Regions from separate parts of the Homo sapiens genome. Here region 2 is linked to region 1. A link means that fine-mapping ties the variant in region 1 to the expression of a gene that starts in the linked region. Tissue or cell type: stomach. Region 1 holds a variant in brackets; the other region holds the start of a gene. All regions are shown on one strand. Distances are between the middles of the regions.

What was found.
Region 2: it holds the start of PLCZ1, and the variant in region 1 is fine-mapped to the expression of PLCZ1 in stomach (GTEx, PIP 0.95).

The regions. Positions count from the first base shown.
Region 1 is chr12:18,654,517-18,662,864 of GRCh38, forward strand. It overlaps a transcript of PIK3C2G not described here and a transcript of PLCZ1 not described here. Among named protein-coding and RNA genes, the nearest start is that of PLCZ1, 79 kb to the right of the region's middle. The variant C/T (reference allele first, on the strand shown) is at 4,160.
Region 2 is chr12:18,733,276-18,741,623 of GRCh38, forward strand. PLCZ1 (phospholipase C zeta 1) reads right to left here and starts at 4,737. Exons shown (of 15, transcript NM_033123.4): 1 at 4,657-4,737; 2 at 4,086-4,234; 3 at 2,946-3,069. The coding sequence starts at 4,096. CAPZA3 (capping actin protein of muscle Z-line subunit alpha 3) reads left to right here and starts at 4,844. Exons shown (of 1, transcript NM_033328.3): 1 at 4,844-5,913. The coding sequence starts at 4,994. The coding sequence ends at 5,893.

The DNA.
Region 1 (8,348 bases):
AAATCAGTATAAAGGATGAAAACGCATCTGTGTCAACTGCAAATGAGCAAAATTATTGCCACGGGTGTTCCCTGAGGAAAAATATTTGGAAAATTTGTGGAACTGTTATTCCAGGTAAAAGTAAAGCAAAGAGAGGACTTATTAAAGGGAAATCAGACAAGATGATTCCAGTTGAGTACTTGGTCTGGATCAGCTCTTGGTCTGATAAGATTATCTTTTACATGGGACTTTCCTACTCATAAGGATCAAGATAATCAAGACTTGTTTGAACAAGGGATAAGTGACAAACATCGAACTCACCGACTTCATCTCTCTTAATGTGGGACATTCTCAAGATAAAATTTTGAGAGTGGAAAGTTGGAAAAACAAATGTTTTGGTCAGAGAGTGAAGGGAAAGGAAAAAGAAAAAAGACACTTAGTTCTGGGAAACAATGTTATCCCTATGTGAAATAAAGAAGTAAACAGACCCATATAAGAAGCTGAATAAAAAGTTATAAACCCAGCCGAAACAGTCTTAAAAGTATACAGAAACAATAATAAAAAAAAATACCAGAGGCTTTTGATGTTTCTTGTTGAGAAAAAGACCATAACAGGAAAATACTGTTAAAGACTTGTGAAATTTAAAAGCTAAGAAGAGAAAGGGTTTTGGAGATCATACGGTGAAAATATTAATCATCACTAGACTCTAATGTATCAGAAACATCAACTGCAGCTTCAGGTAAAGAACCTGCTTCCAGTGGTCCTCCAGCTGAAGGAAAAAAATATTCCCAAAGACACAGGAGCCAACTGAAAGAGTTCCCAATGGCCAAAGCTGGGACAAGTTGGGTAAGTAACATTAAATTATAGCCTGAAGTATAAAATAGTTATCCACGAATCCACACTGCTATAAATGAATAAATAAATAAGTAGGGAGAAAGAAACAAAATCCACGCAGAATTCCTAATTATTTATGGAGATGTTGCACCTGATAAAAGGTAGAACATAGCTACCCATTCCTTACATATGAGCTATGCATAGTGACGTCATCCTGAAGAATATAATATGGAAAAGAGGATTGGGGGATTAACTTTATAGTAGAGAAACCCTGACAAATACTGCCTCAGGCAGGTAGTGAAGGTCAATATCAACAGTGGAAGTCGTGTTGGCAGTATGTACCCTTGACAAGATGTGATGAAAGTGGCACTTTACCTCTGAGGTTTTCCTCCCAAAAACTCACAGCCCCAACCTTATCATGAAAAAAAAAAAAAAAATCAGAACTGACAAATCCCAATTGACAACATTCTACCAAATACTTGACTAGTACTCCTGAAACTGTCAACATCATAAAAAGCAAAGAATGCCTGAGAAACTGTCACAGCCAAGAGGAGCTTCAGGAGACATGACTACTCTATGTAATGTGGTACCCTGGATGGGATCCTGAAACGGAAAAACTAAGTAAATTTGAATTAGGTAAAAAGTAAGTAAATTTTAATTAAAGTGGACTTTAGCTAATAACAATATATCAATATTGGTTCATCAATTGTGACAAATTCTAATATAAGTTGTTAATACTAGTAAAGGAGAGTGACACCAGCAAAAATGGTGAAGTAGGGAAGTCTAAAGTTCCATTCTTCCACAAAAACAGCAAATATGCTGGGCACAGTGGCTCACACCTGTAATCCCAGCACTTTGTGAAGTTGAGACGGAAGCATCATTTGAGCTCAGGAGTTTGAGACCAACCTGGGCAACATAGCAAGACCCTGTCTATACCAAAAAAGCATTAAAAAATATTAGCCAGGTGGCTGGGCGCAGTGGGTCACGCCTGTAATCCCAGCACTTTAGGAGGCTGAGGCGGGTGGATCACGAGCTCAGTAGTTCAAGACCAGCCTGGCCAAGATGGTCTCTACTAAAAATACAAAAATTAGCTGGGCATGGTGGCGGGCGCCTGTAATCCCAGCTACTTGGAAGGCTGAGGCAGAGAATTGCTTGAACCCAGGAGAAGGAGGTTGCAGTGAGACAAGATCACACCACTGGACTCCAGCCTGGGCGACAGAGCGAGACTCTGTCCTGAAAAAAGTAAAATAAAATAAAATAGCCAGGCATGGTTACATGCACCTGGTGTCCCAGCTACTTGGGAAGCTCAGGTGGAAGGATTGCTTGAGGCAGGAGTTCAAGTTAGCAGTGAGCTATGATCATGCCACTGCACTCCAGCCTGGGTGACAGAGCATGACCCTGTCTCAAACAACAGCAACAACAACGACAACAACAACAAAAACACAATTATACAGGCAGAAACGGTCAGAATCAACTTTATTAGAACAATTGAAACCAATCAAATTTTGCAACAACAAAATGAATGCTTAATCAAGAAAAGAGAGTTAAATTTCAGTAAGAGAGATGTGGTGTTAAAGTTACTTTGGCCCCATCTCCTGCTCCCAGCTCAACTTTTTAAGGCAGCCCTAATGACAGCAGCTCACATTTTTTGTATAGGGTCCTAATATGACAGAGAGTAAAATAGATCTCATTCTGACCACAAAGAATTGTGGTTGTTTTGACTTGGCTAGTGATCCCAAAAAAACAAGCCCAAAGGGTTTGTCTTTATTTTAACGAACTCAAATCTCTACCAGTGCTGAGGTGACTACCCAGGGAGAATTTGTTTGAAATATTTATAGGCAGATGTATTTGCCACTGCTGCTGGGGACAAGGAATAATAGAGTTGGAACAAACAATTTACTAACTGAAAAACCTGGGGGCGAAAGACTGGGAAATGAGATGTTTTGGGGAATAAGGGCTCTGAAAAGTTTCCACAAATACCTGGGATTTAGATGACCATATATGTGCCCAGGGATGGGATCATATTCAGAAAATACCTGAGAAGATCCAGAGCTCTTGTCACTGGCTGACCCTCAGGCTCTATGAAAGCACAAATGAAGACTATAGCAGAGTAGTAAGCTTACAAGCTGAAGTGTTGAAGGCATGCCTCAACATTCACATAGAGCCCATATGCAAAGGCTGAAAGATTTCTAATTTTTTGTTGTTGTTTTCGGCTCCAGTAGTTTAAAGAAATCTCTGTAAAATCATTAGCTGAACACCACTAAGCTAACCGAAAAGAGAATCTAGATACAACAATGAATACATACTTTAAAAAATCAGTTCAGAGAAGGCACTAAACAAACAACTACTATAATAAGCAGCAACAACAAACCCCCAAGGAAGAAAGTGAATCTGATTTCTAGAGTTGCCACACTATAATATTCAAAATGTTCAGTCTTCAACAAAAAATTGTGAAGTGTGCAAATAATAAGAAAGTATGGCCCATACACAGAAAAAAAAGGAAAGTAATAGAAATTATCCCTAAGGAAGCTCATCTATTGGACTTACTAGACAGACTTTAAATTAACTATTTAAATATGCTTAAAGCTCTTAAGGAAACCACATACAAAGAACTGAAGAGAACCACTAGAATAATATCACTTCAAATAGAAAACTTCAATAAAGAGACATATTATGAAGTAACCAAAAAAAAATTCTGGATTAAAAAATTATAACAACTGAAATGAAAAATTCACAAAAGAAGTTCAGCAGTACACTTGAGCAGACAGAGGGAAGAATTAGCAAACTTGAAAGTAAGTTCATTGAGATTTCCTAATCTGAGGAACAAAAGGAATAAAGAAAAATCAACAGATCCTAAGAGACCTATGAAATACCACCAAGTATATTAACATTTGCATATTAGGCATCCCAGAAGATAAGAGAGATAAAAAGATAAAAGGACAGAAAGAATATTTAAAGAAATAATGGTCCAAAACATCAATTCACTTGATGAATTACATCCAAGAGGCTCAACAAACTCTAAGTAGGATAAACATAACAAGATTCACAATGAGACACGCTATAATCAAACTGTCAAAAGCAAAAGATAAAGAATCGTAAAAGCAGCAGGAGAGAAGCAAGTCATTATGCACAAGAAATCCTCAATAAGATTAATGGCTGATTGTTACCACAGACCATGGAGGCCAGACATATGAAATATTCAAAGAGCTAAAAGAAAAGACCATCAACCAAGAGATCTATATTTGATAAAAACTATTTTTGAAAAATAAAGGAGAATTTTTTAATAGAAAATCAATATTTTAATAAATAATAGCATTAAAGTACCAGTTTTACATATATACATAAC[C/T]GACCTGTAACTTTAAGTATTTGGAATAGATGGCTTGAGTTATGCATATAAATTCTTTTAGAAGGTTTTACATATTCTATTTCACAGAGAGTAAAAAGGGAGAGAATGCTATACTTTAGCTTAGGTATTTACTACAATAGAATCTAATTCACCTTCAGAAATGTTCTAAAGTGAATTATTCTATTTGAATGGAAAAAATTTGCATTATGAAACCTGTAAAAATGAGATTTTTGTATTTTTTTTGTACATTTACCTTTCACACAAATTATCTCTTTCTATTGGTGAAGATATTATAATCATGCAAGGAATAACTCATGCTCTATGACTCAGTGCTTTTTGGAGCATGAAGCTTTGTATTGGAGAGGCAAGAGTTGCTATGGAAAGGAAACCAACATGGATAGGAAACAGTAGGGCAGAAGGGAAGACACACTAAAAGTGGGCCAAGATAGGAGGAAGGTAAAAAATAAACAGTAACCATAATTCTCATATTATAGTTGGAGCTAATATATAAAGGTACTCAAAAACTAGCCAACTTTAGGCACTAAATAACCACTTTACCTTTACCATCTTATTTAATCTCATAACAATGCAAAGAGATAAATACTATCACTAGTCCCGTACAATAGATGAGAAAACAAAAGTAGTCAGACAAAATAAGCTGCCCACAGCCATACGCTTGTAACTGGAGGATAAAGAACTCTTTGTTCCCTAAATCACTTGGGATTAAGCGGCTGACCTGATACTCTATCATCCCTGCATACTTAGAGATGATGTTTCATAAACAAGAATATTCTCTCTCTTCTCCAAAATACCATGATCAAAATCAGGAAATTACATAACTATCATTTAATGCATAGACTTCCTTCAAGTTTTATCAATTGTCTCAATAATGTATTTTATAGTGAAAGGATATCCACATTAGAATCACACATTTCATTTACGTGTCAGGCCTCTTAAGTCTCCTTTACTATGGAATAGTTCTCCATTCTTTTTTTTTTTTTTTTTACTATTATTATACTTTAAGTTTTAGGGCACATGTGCACAACGTGCAGGTTTGTTAAATATGTATACACGTGCCATATTGGTGTGCTGCACCCGTTAACTCGTTATTTAGCATTATGTATATCACCTAATGCTAAAATAAAGGAGAAATTAAGACTCTCCCAGATAAAAACTGAGACAGTTAACTGCTAGTTGACTTACTCTATAAGAAATGCTAAAGGGAGTCCTTTGGACTGAAATAAAAGAACTCTAGGCTAACTCAAATTTACATAGAGAAATAAAGAACACTGCTAAAGATAAGTAAATGTAAAAAACAAATGTTGGAGAGAATTCTGGGAAGATGGCACAGTATGAAGCACCAAAAATTTATCTCCCCTCCAACAGAACAATTACACTGACATAATCTGTCTGAGGTAAATATTTTGGAATCTTGGAGTCTACTGAAGGCTTGCTTGCACCTTCCAGGAGAGGACCTGGATAGTAAATTTCAGTACATTTAGGTCAATTTCAGCTCTTAACTCAGCAGTGGCTATCCATCCCCATTCTCCTGCGTATTTCTGGATCAGCTTGCACACAGCTTGCCGAAACCAGCAGGAGCCATAAGGATACTGTCCATTAAATATCAGGGATCTGTGTTCTGATATCTGATTGATGCTCTGATCAAAAAGGCAGAGACACAGACAAAGGTGGGAAGTTTTGTTGCAACTCCTCCTTTGTTGCAAGCCCTTCCCTCTCCAGCTGAAGTGAGATCCAGGGGGGTTTAAAGGGCCAGCGCCTCGGCACCTTTAGTTTTTCTCCTTTTCCCCTTTTGAGAGCCAGACATTAAAGACTAGGACATTAAATTAAAAGCAACCACATATATAGAGGAAATTAGAAAGTAACTGTGCATGCCCGGAGAAAGGTATAGACTCAGAAATGACCAGAAAAGACCTTAGATTTATACCTCAGGCTGGTCCTTGGCACAGAGAAGCCTATATCAATTAAAACAGAACAGATACAGCAAATTCTGGGAAAGGAGAAGAATCTGATTTCCAGAGACATGATATTATTAGATTCATATATATAGCTTTCAACAAAAAAACCACAAGGCATCCAACAAACAGGAAAGTATGTCTCATTCAAAGGAAAAAATAAACCAACAGAAACTGTCCTTCAGAAAGACCTGATGAAATATTTACTAGGCAAAGAGTTTAAAACAATTGATAGTCAAAGAAGTAAAGGAAGATGTAAAGAAAATCAAGAAAACAAAGCATGAACAAAATAAAAAGATCAATAAAAATATAGAAAACCCAAATGAAGCCAAAATGAAATTCTGGAACTGGAAAGTACAACTGAAGACAAAAATTCACTAGAAGAATTGAAGGGTATATATATGAGCAGTTAGAAGAATTGATGAACTTGAGGACAGAACAATGGAAATTACTGAGTTTGGGGAATAGCAATAAAGATTTAAGAAAAGTGAACAGAGCCTAACCAACCTGTAGGATATTATGAAGCAGACCAACATATCCATTGTAAGAGTTCTGCAAGAAGAGAAAGAGGCAAAGGGATTATTTGAAGAAATAGTACCCCAAATATTTCCAAGTGTGATGAGATACAAGAATTATAAACATCCAAGAAGTTTAACGAACTCCAAATGAGATAACTCAGAAAGACCCGTACCAAGACATTATAATCCTACTGCCAAAAATAAAAAAAAAGAGAGAGAGAGAATCTTGAAAGCAGCAAGAGAGAAGTGACACATCACATAAAAAGGCCTTTTCGTAGGATTATATATTTAAAGTGCTAAAAGAAAAACAACTGTCAACCATGAATCCTGTATCTAGCAAAACTGTCCTTCATAAATAAGGGATAAACAAGAATATAAAACAATGTTCAACATTATTAATCAGAAAAATGCAAACCAAAACCACGATGAGAGACCATCTCACACCAGTCAGAATGGCTATTATTAAAAAGTCAAAAAATAACATGCTGGTGAGGCTGTGGAGAAAAGGGGATGCTTATACACTGCTGGTGGGAAAGAAATTAGGTCAGCCATTGTGGAAAGCAGTTTGGTGATTTCTCAGAAAACTTAGAACTACCATTGACCCAGCAATCCCATTATTGGATACACACCCAAAGGAATATAAATTGTTCTACCGTTGTAGAAATATTCACAATAGCAAAGACAATAGGAATCAACCTATGTGCCCATCAACAGTAGTACTGGATTTTTTTAAATGAAGTACACATACACCATGAAATACTACACATCCATAAAAAAAGAACAAGATCATATCATTTGCAGAAACATGAATGGAGCTGGGGGCCATTATCCCATTATCCTAAGTGAACTAACGCAGGAACAGAAAACCAATACTGCGTGTTCTCCCGTATTAAGTAGGAACTAAATCTTGAGTACACATGGACACAAAAATGAGAACAATAGACACTGGGACTACTTGAAGATGGAAAGTGCAAGGAGGGTGAAGATTGAAAAACCACCCACTGGAGTTAAGTAGTTATGCTATGCTACCTAAATAGCATAGGCACTATGCTCATCACCTGGCTGATGAAATAATCTGTACATCAAACCCCTGCAACATGCAACTTACCTATGTAGCAAACCTGAACATGTACCTCTAAACATAAAGGTTTTTAAGTACAATTTTTAAAAAACACAAAATTGAGGGAGAAATTAAGAAATTAATAAATGAGGGAGAAATAAATTTTGTTTATCCCAGATAAACAAAAGCTGAGGAAATTTATGACCCTAGATCTACCCTGCAGGGAATACTAAAGGTGGCCTCACACTTTGAAATAAAAGAGCATTACACAGTTTAAAAAAAAGGCTTTGTGAAGAAGTAAAGATCCACAGTAAAGGTAAATACATGAACAATTATAAAAATTTGTATTATTGTAACTTTGGTCTGCAGCTATACATTTTGTTTTCTACATTATTTAAGATATTAATGCATTAAAAGTAATTATTGGTTCATATATCTGGACCCACAATGTGGAAAGATGTAATTTTGAAGCATCAATAACTGAAAAATGAGGTCTAGTCTGTAAAGGAGCAGAATCTCATATGTTACTGAAGTTAAGCTGTTATAAAATCAAATTAGAGAGTTATAACTTTAGCATGTTAAATGTAATCCCCATGGTAACCAAACAGAAAATGCACATAGAATAAAAACCAAAGGAA
Region 2 (8,348 bases), 79 kb after region 1:
CTTTGCACATTTTCTAATCAAGTTACTTGGGGTTTCCATTCTATGGAGTTGTGGGATTCAATTTTGGATACTATCCCTTATCAGATATGTGGCTTGCAAATATTTTCTTTTATTCTGTAAATTGGCTTTACATTTTTGTTGATTGTTTCCTTTGCTGTGCAATAGCCACTTTGTTTCATGTAATCCCACTTTTCTATTTTTAGACAAGTTTTTGTTACCTGTCTTTGTTTCAATCCCTTTGGAATCATATCTAAGAAATTCTTGCCAAGCCCAATGTCAAAAAGCTTTTTTCCTATTTTCTTCTATGAGTTTCATAGTTTCAGGTCTCAAGTTTAAATCTTTAATGGATTTTGAGTTGATTTTTGCATATGGGGTAAGGTTAGAGTCCAATTTCATTTTTTACATGCGAATATCCAGTTTTCCCAATGCCATTTATTGGAGAGACTATCCTTTCCCCATTATGTATTTTAGTACCTTTGTAGAAGATCAGTTGACTATATATGAAGGGGTTTATTTCTGGGCTCTCTATTCTGTTCCATTAGTCTACATATTTGTTTTTATGCCCCTACCATACTGCCTCAATTACTGAAGTATTTTAAATACATTTGGAAACCAAAAATTGTGATGCCTCCACCTTTATATTTCTTTTTTAAGATTGGTTTTGGTTATTCAGGGTCTTTTTTGATTCCAATATGAATTTTAGGATTGTTTCTTCTGTTTCTGTGAAAACAAAACAAAAATGCCATTGGGATTTTAGTAGGGATTACATTGAATCTATAGATCACCTTGGGTAGTATGGATATATTAACATGGGATGTGTTTCTGTTTATTTGTAACTTTTAAAGTTTATTTCATCAGTGGTTTACAGTTTTGGTGTGCCAGTTTTTCACTTCCTTGGTTAAATTTATTCCTAAGCATTATATATTTTTTAATGCTAGTGTAAATGAAAATGTTTTCTTGATTTCTTTCTGGATAGTACATAGTTAATGAATAGAAATGCAACACATTTTTACATAGTAATTTTGTATCTTGCAACTTTACTGAATTTAATAGTTCTAGTAGTTGTTTTTGTTGTTGTTGTTGTTGTTGTTGTTTTGAGGACTCTCGCTCTGTTGCCCAGGCTGAAGTGCAGTGGCGCAATCTCAGCTCACTGCAACCTCTGCCTCCCAGGTTCAAGCAATTCTCGTGCCTCAGCCTCCTGAGTAGCTGGAATTACAGGCGTGCACTACCACGTCTGGCTAATTTTTGTGTTTTTAGTAGAGACGAGGTTTCAACACATTGGCCAGGCTGGCCTCGAACTCCTGACCTCAGGTGATGCACCTGCCTCAGCCTCCCAAAGTGCTGTGATTACAGGCATGAGCCACCACACCCGGCCTTGTGGTAGTTTGTTAACAAAATCTTCAGGAGTTTCTACATGTAAGATTGTGCCATCAGTGAATAGAGATAATTTTGCTTCTGCCTTTTTAATTTAATTGCCTTTTATTTTCATTTCTTGACTAATTGCTTTGGCTAGGATTTCCAGTACCATCTTGAACAGAAGTGGTGAGAGTGGGCATCCTTGCCTTTTCCCAGATCTTAGAAAAAAATCTTTTCAGTTTATTTTATATGATATTAGCTGTAAGCTTTTCATATATGGACTTTAATGTGTTAAGTTCCTTTTATACTTAATTTACTGAGAGTTATCATGAAAGGGAGTTAAATTTTGTCACATGCTTTTTCTATATTTTTGAGATAATCATGTGATTTTTATCTCCATTCTGTTAATGTGGTGTATCACATTGATTGATTTCTGTATGTTGAGCCATCCTTGCATGCCAGGGACACATATTATTTGGTCATGGAATATGATCCTTTTAAAGTGCTATAAATTTGATTTGCTATTATTTTGTTGGGGAATTTTGCATCTATGTTCATCAGGAATATTGGCCTAAAGTTTTGTTTTCTTGTGGTGCCTTTGTCCAGCTTTGGTATCCAGATGATGTTGACCTTATAAAATAAAACTGGAAGTGTTCCCTCTTCTATTTTTTAGAAGCATTTCAGAAGGATTGGTATTAATTCTTCTTTAAATCTTTGGTAGAATTCACCTGTGAAGTCATTTGGTCCTGGGCTTTTCTTCGTTGGGCAGTTTTTGATTACTGATTAAGTCTCCAAACAGGGTCTCACTATGTTACCCAGGCTGGTCTCAAACTCCTAGCCCCAAGTGATCCTCCCACCTTGGCCTCTCAAAGCATTGGGATTACAGGTACAAATCACTGCACACAGCCTCTCAGTCTCCTTTTTGTTATTGGTCTGTTTAACCTTTCTAGTTCTTCTTGGTTCAGTCTTGATGGGTTATATGGTTCTTGAAATTTCCCTTTTTTTTCTAGATTGTCCAATTTTATGGTGTATGATTGCTCTATGTGTTTTTCATTTTTGTGAGATCTGTTGTAATGTCTCCACTTTCATTTCTGATTTTATTTGACTCCTCTCTCTTTTTTCTTACTCTAAGTATTTGTCAATTTTATTTAACTTTTCAAAAAAACAAGTCTTAGTTTCCTCAATTTCTTCTAATTTTTTTCTTTTCTATTTTAGTTATTTCTGTGCTAATCTGTATTATTTCCTCCCTTCTGCTAACTTTGGGCTTATTCTCCACTCTTTTTATAAATCACTAACATCTAATACAGTTACCATTATCAGTCTGATATAATTAGACATCCAATCCTAGGTTTAATGTTAGCATTTCTGTATGCTCAGGAAATTATTCTAAACTGATATCCTGGTATTATTTCAGATTTTCTCAACAACTAATTTTACCTTCTACTGAAATGCTCTCCATCTTGATTGTAAATATAGTTAGTATAATTAATTGCTTTTCTTCTTAAGAGACTAACCTTTATATGACAATTACTGACATTGGATTAAGTTCCACCTAGGATAGGATAGGCAGGGGGTGGATGTCATCTTACCTTAAAAATCTGTTTCACATGAATATAACTGCACCGAATATCTAATTTTTCAAGTAACCTCTGAGTTTTTTCTAGGTTAATTTTTCCACCTCTGAAGTCATCCTGAATCTTTGACAAAAACCATGTAGAAGCACAAAAAAGTTAAGGAAATTCTCACAGAAAGTCATTGAATATTTAAAATTCCTAAAGAAACATTTGATTTACTGTATTATTTTTATTTTTAAAGAATATGTTTAAAGTAAATTATAGTATAATTGTATGATAAATATTTTTTAAAAAACAAAATTAAGTAGTTACTATGCTATGGTAAAGGTATGAAAGGGCATAGCACAGTAAAAATACAAAAAAAAGAATTAAAGTTAAAATTTGAGAATTGAAGTCATTACTTAGAACATACATTAAAACATTATAACAATCTATTGCCTGAAGGCATGAAGTTGGAAGGCAGCTAGACTTCAAGATCGCCTCTCACCTGACCTCTCTGTTTTAGTTCTCTCTTCCAGAAAGGTGAGCAAATTAACCCTGAATCTTAAGGAAAGTGGAAGCATTAGATGAATTCCTAATATGCCACCGAACACAGTTTCTGCTACTTAGTGTTCAATAAATAGTAACCATGACTGATAAAGTTATTATTACTACATTAGTCCAATGCCCAGCTACACACACACTCAAGACAGTACCATCAAAAAGCATCAGAAATACCATGGTGAGTGTATATTTGGTATGAAAAACGAAAAAAATTTTTAAAAGCTTACTTATCATAGATAAACTACAAAAACTAGGACACTTCCATTTGAAAAACTAAGATCGAAATGAGATAATGACAATTATCACTAAAATTATAAAAGGTATAGGTAAAAATTGTGCAAAACTACTAAGTTTCAGATTGTTAGAACGAATTAATGAGATCTCCTTAAATTTAATAGTTATGACTTAATCCAGCAAAGCTCATGTTCTTGTAAGAAAAAGATACCAGAATGCAGGGAAAGTTAGAAAAGCTCAGAACAAACAGGGAAAAGCAGTTCAACTTAAATGAAGAGGACTTAAATTCAGAACTCCTCGAAAAGAATAACAGCATCAAGTAAAGAGGATAAGTAGGAGAAAGAAGAAGAGGAGCAGAAAGAAGCTCTCAATGGATATCTCATTTCCATAGTTTCATGACCTGTAGAGCCGTTTCTCCTCACTTAGAAGTCTTTCCCCAGTAGGTGCTGTCATGGGTTCCAAATACAATTAACTCTGCCCCTTTGCAGAAAATAATTTCTTGATACTCATCAGCTGTTACCACTTTTCTAGGGAGAAAGCAGAGAACACACAGTGGTTTTTTTTGCCTTCGTTCTTTGAAGCTAGCTCACACTTAACCATAGAAACAGTATGCAAGATGTGGTACCTGCACTACCCTGCCCTTGAAACTGTTTGGCTTCTTACGTTCTGACCACCTCCAAACCCACAATATTTGAAAACACAGCTTTCCCTGATGTCTGGCATTTTTCCATGAACTGCCATTGTATCTCCTTTTATTTTTTACTACTTTGTTTAAACCCCTCAAACCTTTCATCATAATATGCTTCCAGTGGGTTTGGGCAGCTACTCTGAGAGCCTGAGTATAAATCAACACCATTGTGATTCCTGAAGTTGCAAAGTGCTGTCACTCTTGAAACTTTGGGCTGCTTCTCTAGATCGTTGACAACATATAATGCACACAGAGACACACCACTTTCGAAGAAGACTGTTCAGGAGGCTAAGTTCTTAAAATCTTCAAAAGAGGTATAGCTGGTTGGCTGGGCACCACACTGTCAGGTGACTGTCATTTTTTCCTTTTGGTCTGAATTCCCATTGTGATATCATCAGAGGTTCCACACTTCACAAGGAAAGCTTCTTATGACCTCATCAGGAGGCTCAGACCTTGCCAGACTGCCTGCTTTCATGGATAGACATAAAAACCTTCAGCTTGAATGTTAACACCTTGATGGGAAAGGTGGCTCATGGAATGTTTTCTTATCCTTTGAACACTCCTCATTTCAGAAGCTTTGCTTCTGTTGCAACCAAACATGACACTTAGCGTGCTGAGCAGGAAGGACAAGGAAAGAGTAATTCGCAGACTGTTATTACAGGCCCCTCCAGGGGAATTTGTAAATGCCTTTGATGATCTCTGTCTGCTTATCCGTGATGAAAAACTTATGCACCACCAAGGTGAGTGTGCAGGCCACCAACACTGCCAAAAATATTCTGTACCACTCTGCATCGATGGAAATCCAGTACTCTTGTCTCACCACAATGTAATGGGCGACTACCGATTTTTTGACCATCAAAGCAAACTTTCTTTCAAATATGACCTGCTTCAAAATCAGCTGAAAGACATCCAAAGTCATGGTATCATTCAGAATGAGGCAGAATACCTGAGAGTTGTTCTTCTGTGCGCCTTAAAACTGTATGTGAATGACCACTATCCAAAAGGAAATTGCAACATGCTGAGAAAAACTGTCAAAAGTAAGGAGTACTTGATAGCTTGCATTGAAGATCACAACTATGAAACAGGAGAGTGCTGGAACGGACTTTGGAAATCTAAATGGATTTTCCAAGTTAACCCATTTCTAACCCAAGTAACGGGAAGAATATTTGTGCAAGCTCACTTCTTCAGGTGTGTCAACCTTCATATTGAAATATCCAAGGACCTGAAAGAAAGCTTGGAAATAGTTAACCAAGCTCAACTGGCTCTAAGTTTTGCAAGGCTTGTGGAAGAGCAAGAGAACAAATTTCAAGCTGCAGTCTTGGAAGAATTACAGGAGTTATCCAATGAAGCCCTGAGAAAAATTCTACGAAGGGATCTTCCAGTGACCCGCACTCTTATTGACTGGCACAGGATACTCTCTGACTTGAATCTGGTGATGTATCCTAAATTAGGATATGTCATTTATTCAAGAAGTGTGTTGTGCAACTGGATAATATAAAGAATTGCTCCTGGTAACTATCTTGATTTGACTTGTTTGTGTTTCTTGGGAATGGTTATTTTCCTAAAATTGAGCAATCTGTAGAGATGTCTCTCACTTAGCCAATGCAAATTTAAATGGGAAAAGTGTAGCAAGTAATTTTACTTGGGGAATATTTATGAACAAGGCAAGAAAGTGTAAAGTAACTGTGTTTCATGGTGGTGACCATCATAAAGACCAAGACATTTGTTAGAAACTAAAATAGTTTTATAGAATCTGGGATTCCAGAAATAGTATAGAGGTGGCCAGGGTTAAGGCTGTGTGTGGGTGTGTACGTGTGTGTGTGTGTGTGTGTGTGTGTGTGTGAGAGAGAGAGAGAGAGAGAGAGAGAGACTTTTGACTGTTTCGAACTGAAAAGGTATACAAATGAATATCACTCCACAAATGATATTTTACATAACTCAATTCAGTCCTAGACCATCCACGAGATGGGGAATTTCAATAAAAGACATTAGGTTTGGATTTTCCACAAAACCAACAGATATCAAAAATCTAGCTCAGATGAAGGACTATTAGTAATTTTGGCTCCTCTTCCACTCTACTTTCTTCCCCTCAAGAATTGGGGTTACTCAAAATCCCTGGCTTGTCTGATAACTAACATGGTCTTCCAAGCCAACCAGAGAAGCCTGACTTCCCAAACTTTTACAGCCAGGCTTTTGTGAAGTCGTCACTGTAAACACTTAGAAGTACTTATTACATAACATGGCTTGTGCTAAATATTTTGCATAACATTTTTCATCACTAATCTGGTACTAGTATTATCTCCGTTGTACCTAAGAAAAACCTAAGTTCTCAAGTTGTTCACATCTTCCAGACACATAGTGTCACAGTTCACTTGTGCTGCTATAACAAAATACCATATATTGAGTAACTCACAAATAACAGGAATTTATTGGTCGCAGTTATGGAGGCTGTGAAGTCCAAGACCAAGTTGCTAGCAGATTTAGTGCCTAGTAAAGGTGTGTTTCCTCATAGATAGGACTTTCTGACTGTGACCTTACATGGTAAAAGGGGCAAAGCAGCTCTGTAGAACTTCTATTAATGGCACTAATATCGTTTATGAGGGCTCCACTCTCATGGCCAATCACCTCCCAAAGTCCTCACCTCCTAATACCATCACCTCGGGGACTCAGTTTCAACATATAAATTTTGAGGGACACAAACAATCAGACCGTACCACATAGTGACAAGTGTATCTGACTTAGTGCTCATGCTTCAGGGTACAACAGTTCCCCATGGAAGCCTATTTCATTATGAGTTATGGACTCTGATGTACATTGATTTTGCCAAGCATTCCACCTTAAAGGATATCCCAGAAGAAATGGAACTTGTGACAGCTGTTTTCTAGCCAGAGTAAATCACCTATACACTCACCCTACCACTATTCCTAGCAATGTTACTGACCACTGGTATCTGCTCTTTCAATAAATTCCCAAATGTAAAACTCTTTAACAAGATTACAGTACAGCAGTAGGTAGGCCCCATCCTCCAATTCTGATTTATCTAAGAAGCAAAGTGTTTTGTATTTTGTGTTTATGCAATTGAAAAACAGTTCTAATTCTACTTATTAACATTGGAGCATTCAGATCCCGTGCAAGAATTTCTAAACCTCAAACCTCCCCAGCTGATGATTCTTAGAGAATCTCAGGAGAATAACCTGGGATTTATCTTTAAAAATATACATTACTGGGGCCCATCCTAGGATTCTGATTTAGTAGGCTGGGAAATCTGCATTTTAGCAAGTATCAGAGGTTACACTGATGCAAAATATTTCAGGGCCACATTTTAAGAAATGTTCCCTAATCTTAAAATAGCATGTCCTGTGCTTTCTCTTTACTTAATTAAAATCATTTCCCACAAAACCATAGCCCAGTGAAGGCCATTGCTACCACTTTACTGCATTTACTATGCACAGACCAAGGACGGGCCTTGCCATGTAAAAAAGGTAAAAACAAACTTTCTAAAGAAAAGCAGAAAAGAAAGTTGCTCTCATAGCACTAAAATACAGCCATCCAGTGAAGCCTTAAGCAAAAATTTGAATTGATATTATGGTTATATGTGTAAGGGTTGATTTTCCAGATCATTGCAGATTAGGACCCAGTGGTTTGTGGGATAATTACAGAGGCATTTAGCTCCTGCTTTAACATAGGGTTTTTTTAAGTAATATTTGTTGATAATTCTGAATATAAAAGTCACATGTACAAATCGTGGAAAATGCTTAAAGCATAAAGCATTGTGGCCCATTTTCTTCTGTCTAATTTTATAGAACTGCTTTAAATATGAAGAATAGACAAAATATAAAAATTTGTATCTTGTTCTTTTTTATAACACATATATCATAAACATTGCCCCATGTCATTAAAAACTCCTTGAGCACATAATTTTAATTATTTACACAATATTCATACTGTAGATG